Linked DNA regions of Homo sapiens: region 1 is linked to region 2. Evidence: fine-mapped expression QTL. A gene starts in region 2. The other region holds a variant in brackets. All regions are shown on one strand. Distances are from middle to middle. Region 1 overlaps SH3PXD2B (SH3 and PX domains 2B). Region 2 holds the start of SH3PXD2B (SH3 and PX domains 2B).

Region 1 (2,904 bases), 32 kb after region 2:
ATTATTGGCCCAGGAAACTGGACAGTCCAGGAATAAATTTAGCTTCAGGCAGAGCTGGATGTAAGCTTAGACTGTGTCATCGGGATGGTGGCTCCTTTCTCAGGCAGGCTCCCCCCCACCCCCAGTGAGGATGGGTAGCCCCCAGCAGCTCCACATCTTGACAGCCTGTCAACCTCAGGAGAAGAGCTTGGCTTTCTCCAGAGTTGGAGCAAAAGTCCCAGGGCGGGCCGGGCGCGGTGGCTCAAGCATGTAATCCCAACACTTTGGGAGGCCGACATAGGTGGATCACTTGAGGTCAAGAGTTCGAGACCAGCCTGAGCAACATGACAAAACCCCGTCTCTACTAAAAATACAAAAATTAGCCGGGCACGGTAGCGCTCGCCTGTAATCCTAGCTACTCGGGAGGCTAAAGCACGAGAATCTCTTGAACCCGGGAGGCAGTGAGCCGAGATTGTGTCACTGCACTCCAGCCTGGGTGACAGAGCTAGACTCCCTCTCCAAAAAGAAACCAAACCAAAAAAGTCCCAGGACAGACTCCTACTGGCTGTGATTGGCCCAGCTCAAGTCACATGTTCTCCCTTCAACCAATCACCATGAACAGAGAATGTGCGCCCCCCCCCCCAACCCCGTATCCAAGTGGGTGAGCTGAAGGTAGGGAAGGAGGATTCCAGGAGTCAGTCATCTTCACTTATGTATGCATTGTCTCTCCTTCTAACCGTCACCTCATGGAGGACAGGGACACTGCCTGTGAAACCCCAGGGCTTCTAACAGCACTGAGCGCCTTGTGTTTCTATGACATTTCTTTGTTTCCAAACAGCTTTCACTTGTGCATATATTTTAATTGTCACAACTACCCTATAGCAACAGATAGTTTATGCAGTCCAGGAATGGGTCACAGGTATGCTGATCCCTTAGCCCTTAGGTGTCTACCTGGTGTGTCCGGGGCCACCAAAGGCCCCAGCCAGGCACCTCTGACCTCTAATAGTCACCTCAGTTTGCCCGGGCTTGTTATCAATGTATTGTTTTCTGTGCGTGCCGTGACGTGTGACACAGGTTGGAAGCACAGCCCACTGGTTTATAAAATGGTCCTTCATCCTTAATTTCATCAGCACCTCACATCTATCCTGGGAGGCAGAGGAGGCAGAGGAGGCAGAGGAAGCAGGTGCTGTTAGCCCCATTCACAGGAGAAACTGGGACTCGGGGAAAAAATAACTTGGCCTAGGTCCTCGTCGGTGGAGACAGCATGATGGGCTGGCCTGTGGAAGATATAAGATGGCCAAGAGCTGCACGTCTCCGTGACTTCTCCTGATGAAAGTCAAGGTTTTAGGAATGACTGGCAAGATAGCCAGCCTGTCTCTCACTGAACTGAGCGGGTAGTGAGGAATCCTGGCAATGCCGAAAACAGCAGCTTCTCCTGAGCTGATGTGGTGCCACTGCATCCCCATACTTGATGTCATTCATCCTTTGCACAACTCTGTTGGGGGTTATTACACTCATTTTATTGAGGAG[G/A]GAGATGAGTCTTACAGCAAGCAACTTGTCCAGCCAGTCATTGGCAGAGCTAAGGCTGAAACCCACGTCTTTCTGACTCTGAGTCTTGTGCTCCCCCTGGGTCCCAGAGATTGGGAGACCACCTTCTGGTGTTAACACCCATCTCCTCTGTTGCTCCCGCAGGTCTACATCATCCGGGTCACGTGGTCCAGCGGCTCCACCGAGGCCATTTACCGGCGCTACAGCAAGTTTTTTGACCTCCAGGTAAGGATTTGAGGTCTCTGGTGAGCTGCAGGATCGGAAAGAGTTTAATTGGACTTACATTCCACTACAGCTTTAGAGTCCAGAATTTTTTTAATTTCCCAGACTTAAAAATGACATCCATGGCTGGGCGTGGTGGCTCACACCTGTAATCCCAGCACTTTGGGAGGCGGAGGTGGGTGGATCACTCGAGGTTAGAAGTTTGAGACCAGCCCGGCCAACATGGTGAAACCCCGTCTCTACGAAAAATACAAACATTAGCCAGGTGCGGTGACGGGTGCCTGTAATCCCAGCTACTCGGAAGGCTGAGGCAGGAGAATTGCTTGAACCCGGGAGGCAGAGGTTGCAGTGAGCCGAGATCGTGCCATTGCACTCCAGCCTGGGCAACAAGAGCAAAACTCCATCTCAAAAAAAAAAAATGACATCCATTACTTTTGAGACACAAATAATGTGCTTTGTTGCTTTATGCTTTGATATTTCATATTTCCTCCATAAGAGAAAGGGTGCCTGTTAACTGCTCCAGAATGGAGGGTAATCTGGAAATCATTTCCAAATGGCTTTGGCATGCAGTGTTTGAACTTAAGTTTTAAACAATAATCGTGTTTGCTGGTGAGCTGGGTTTGTTGAGTGTGTCTAGACTTTTGGGGCCATTCAGCTCTGAAGACAGACCTGCATCTCCTGCCTCACCTTGGCCTCTCTCCACAGGCCTTTGCCCTCCCCACACACTCCTGTGCCTTCCCGGCTCACTCATGGCTCCAGTAACCCCTTCTGCCCTTCAGGACTCTCATCCCCTAGGAAACCTTGCCTTTGTTCCCTGGCCAGCGAGGGCCACCCATTCTGTGCCCCTACAGCTCTGTGTGTCTCTCTGTATTGAAGCTGTCTGCTTGTCTGTCTCCCTGCCTAGACTGTGACTATTGTGGGCCAGAACCACATCTTTCTCTTCCTGTCTGTCCTTAATAGTTTATTCAAGGCCTAACACACAGTATATGTCCAGTCAGTGTTTGGTGAATGAATGAATGAATGAACGAACACCATGTATACTACCAGTCTTATAGGGAGCCAGGCAGAATGTGAACAGCTCGGTATAAGCACATCCCCATTAGGGTAAAACAAGTCTAACCAGTGGGTTAGTAGTTTCTTCTTGATGTCACTAAT
Region 2 (2,904 bases):
GGAGCAAATGGAGGGGCGGATCCAAAGTGAATCAGCCCAAATCATCCACGTGGCCTGGCCGAGGCTGAGAGCCGTCCTACCCTGGATAAGCCCACCCTTTTCCAAAGGCTGATCCTGGACCGGGGTGGGAAGTAGCTCTGTCGTGGCATGGAGAAGAGTCGTACGGTTTGTTGAAAAGAGCCCCCACTTACTGGCTGTGAAAACACTGGCCAGGAGCCTAAACCTCCCATCCATGCATTATATATTCATTTATCCATTCATTCAGCCAACATCTCCTGAAAGTGACTCAGTGCCCAGCCAGTGCTAGGAGGCACTAGATGAAGAAACGAGGAGCTGCCCCAGCCACGGCAGCTTCAACGTGTGAGATCCACCTAGAGCCAGGCAGTGACGGGCTCCATCCACCGGCTCCCTGACTCTGGACCTTCACTGATGTAATTCCTGTAAGGCACATTCTTCTGAAGTACAGTTCCCAAGTCAGAGGGTCCTCAGGCCTCATTGGAAATGTCCAAATGTCTGGAGGCCGTCCTCTGTAAAAACACCTTTTCCTCCTAGAGTCTGCCTGAGGATGCAAAGACAGCATTTGTGAAAAGCAGGGGCCACGGGGCCCAGCGAGCAGTTAAGTGCTCCGCAACTGGAAATCGATGGCCTTGCTAACAAGCACCCAGCTGCCCCTCACACATAGTCACCACCCTTTTATCCCCTTTTGTTGCTTCCATGGCAATTACATTGCACGTATGCGCATTTGTTGCAGTTTTTCTCTCCCTCACTCCCCATGTCCCAGACTGAGGCTGGGGGAACCTGGTCACGGGTCTCTTGCTCCTCCTGAATCACCAGGGCTTGGGGTGGCTTTAGGAACGCCAGCACTCATACCATGGACTGCACTGCGGAATGGCTTCACATGCACTTAATCCCGGGCGCAGCACCGGCAGGCAGGCGGTACTACTGACACGTGCTACAACATGGATGAGCCTTGAGGACATTATGCCGAGTGAAATAAGCCAGACACAAAAAGACAAACATGGTGCTTGTACTACTAGGCTCATATTATAGACGAAGAGACCCAACCCAGAGAGGTTAAGCAACTTGCCGAGGGCACAGAGTGGAAAAGCGGCAAAGCCGGGATTCGAACCCGGGTGTCCGGCTCTCCAAACTGGCGGTGGATGGCGGCTGCCGGAGCGAGAGTGCTGGAATGAATCGATACGTCAATCAGTGAACGGGCGACGGGGTCAGTCCAGTCCCCTCCCCCGGCGCGGCGGCTCAGCACCGGGACAAAGGCCGGGCGGGGGCCGGACGTGGCCGGCGGGGTTCGCGCGCGGTGGGCGGGGGTCGGGGCCGGGCCCTTTAAGGGGGGCGGGCCGGCGGCGCGGGGGGCGGTGCGGGGGGCGGTGCGGGGGGCGGTGCGGGGGGCGGGCCGGGGGCGGGCGGCGGCGGCTGGGCCCGGCTGGAGTGCGCGCCGAGCGAAGGGCGGCGGCGGTGGCGGCGGCGGCTCGTGCTCGGCCCCGGCTGCGATTGCGCTCAGCTCCAGGTTCCCTGCCCGCGGCGGCGCGCCCCCAGCGCTCCCTGCACCCCGCGCCACCCGCACCCGCGCTCGGCCCGCTGCGGGCGGAGGAGCGGCCATGCCGCCGCGGCGCAGCATCGTGGAGGTGAAGGTGCTAGACGTGCAGAAGCGGCGGGTGCCCAACAAGCATTATGTGAGTGCGGCGCGGCCCCCACGCCCCCTTGAGCCCGCGCCCCGTCGGGGGCGACCGAGGGCCCCCGGCTTGGAAAACTTCTGCCTCCAGCGCTTCCCGTCCCCTCCTCCCCTGCTCTCCCCTCGGCTCTGCGGCGGCGCTGCCCGGGTCCCTCCCGACTCCTCCTCCCTCCCTCCCCTCCCCTCCCCGCTTTTGCCTCGTTCTCCCCCTCCATCCCTTCCTCCCGCCTCGCCCCCCTACTCGCCTCCCTGCGGCTCCTCTACCCCTTTCTGTCTTCTCCGTGTCCCCCCAACTCCCGTCCTGCTCATCTGTGGAAAAGTCTGGCTCCAGCCGGTGAGGGGTCTGAGACAGAAAGCGGGAGAGACAGAAGTGCCTGTTCTCAGGCCGCCCGCCTTGCCCCTCCTTGTCCAGAGGCGCGCAGACCCGCAGTCCCCAGCCACAGGTAGCCCCTCTAGGGTTCGCCGAATTTGACTCCGTTCTTTGGCAAGAGCCGGCCTGGGCGATGGAGGAGATCTCTGGGAATGGATCATTTGAGTGGCTACGCCTTTAAAGGGTTAAAAACATCCCCTGCCCCCTCTCTCCAGTAACTTCTGTTTTAAAATGTACGAAAGTTTTCTCCTGGCATCTCCCTCTGGAACATGGGAATCTTGTTTGGAGCTGGCAAGGACTTGAGAAAATGGGACAGTAGCGTCGTTTTGCAGATAGGAAGGCTGAGGCTCAGAGGTTGCAGGTCCTGGAACATAGAGCTGCATTCGGGCTTCCCTCCCTCCAGCAGGGGTGCCTGGGGCTGACGGTGACCTGCAGGTGGAAAGTGGCTTCCGCAGCAACCTAGGGGACACGTCTGCAGATTCAGGAGGCCCTGGGACCACCTCGCAGGTTCTAGGTGGAGATAAAGGGGATGTGGGGTGATGGGCCCACATGAGGCCTTGGGGAGGGCCTCATTACAGCAGGGAAGGGGGCTATAGTGTCTCTGGCGGTGAGAAGTGGGCAGTGGCGGAGCCTGGCTGCAGAGAAGTTAACCAGGAAGGGAAAAAGAGTAAGAGGGAGGGAAAAAATCCTAACAAAGAAGTATAGAACAATGAATAGAAAAGGGCGTTGGCTGGCTAAATTAAGCTCCTTGGCCTCCCTGGAAGTCGTCTTCAGATCTTTTTTTTTTAAGAACTAATTCTTACAAAGTAGATCTGCATGCCTTCCGTGAATAGCCTGTGAAATT

What was found.
Region 1: its variant is fine-mapped to the expression of SH3PXD2B in whole blood (INTERVAL, PIP above 0.99).

The regions. Positions count from the first base shown.
Region 1 is chr5:172,421,264-172,424,167 of GRCh38, reverse strand. SH3PXD2B (SH3 and PX domains 2B) reads left to right here. Exons shown (of 13, transcript NM_001017995.3): 2 at 1,672-1,752. Among named protein-coding and RNA genes, the nearest start is that of SH3PXD2B, 32 kb to the left of the region's middle. The variant G/A (reference allele first, on the strand shown) is at 1,510.
Region 2 is chr5:172,453,065-172,455,968 of GRCh38, reverse strand. SH3PXD2B (SH3 and PX domains 2B) reads left to right here and starts at 1,444. Exons shown (of 13, transcript NM_001017995.3): 1 at 1,444-1,691. The coding sequence starts at 1,617. RefSeq lists an enhancer at 1,957-2,478.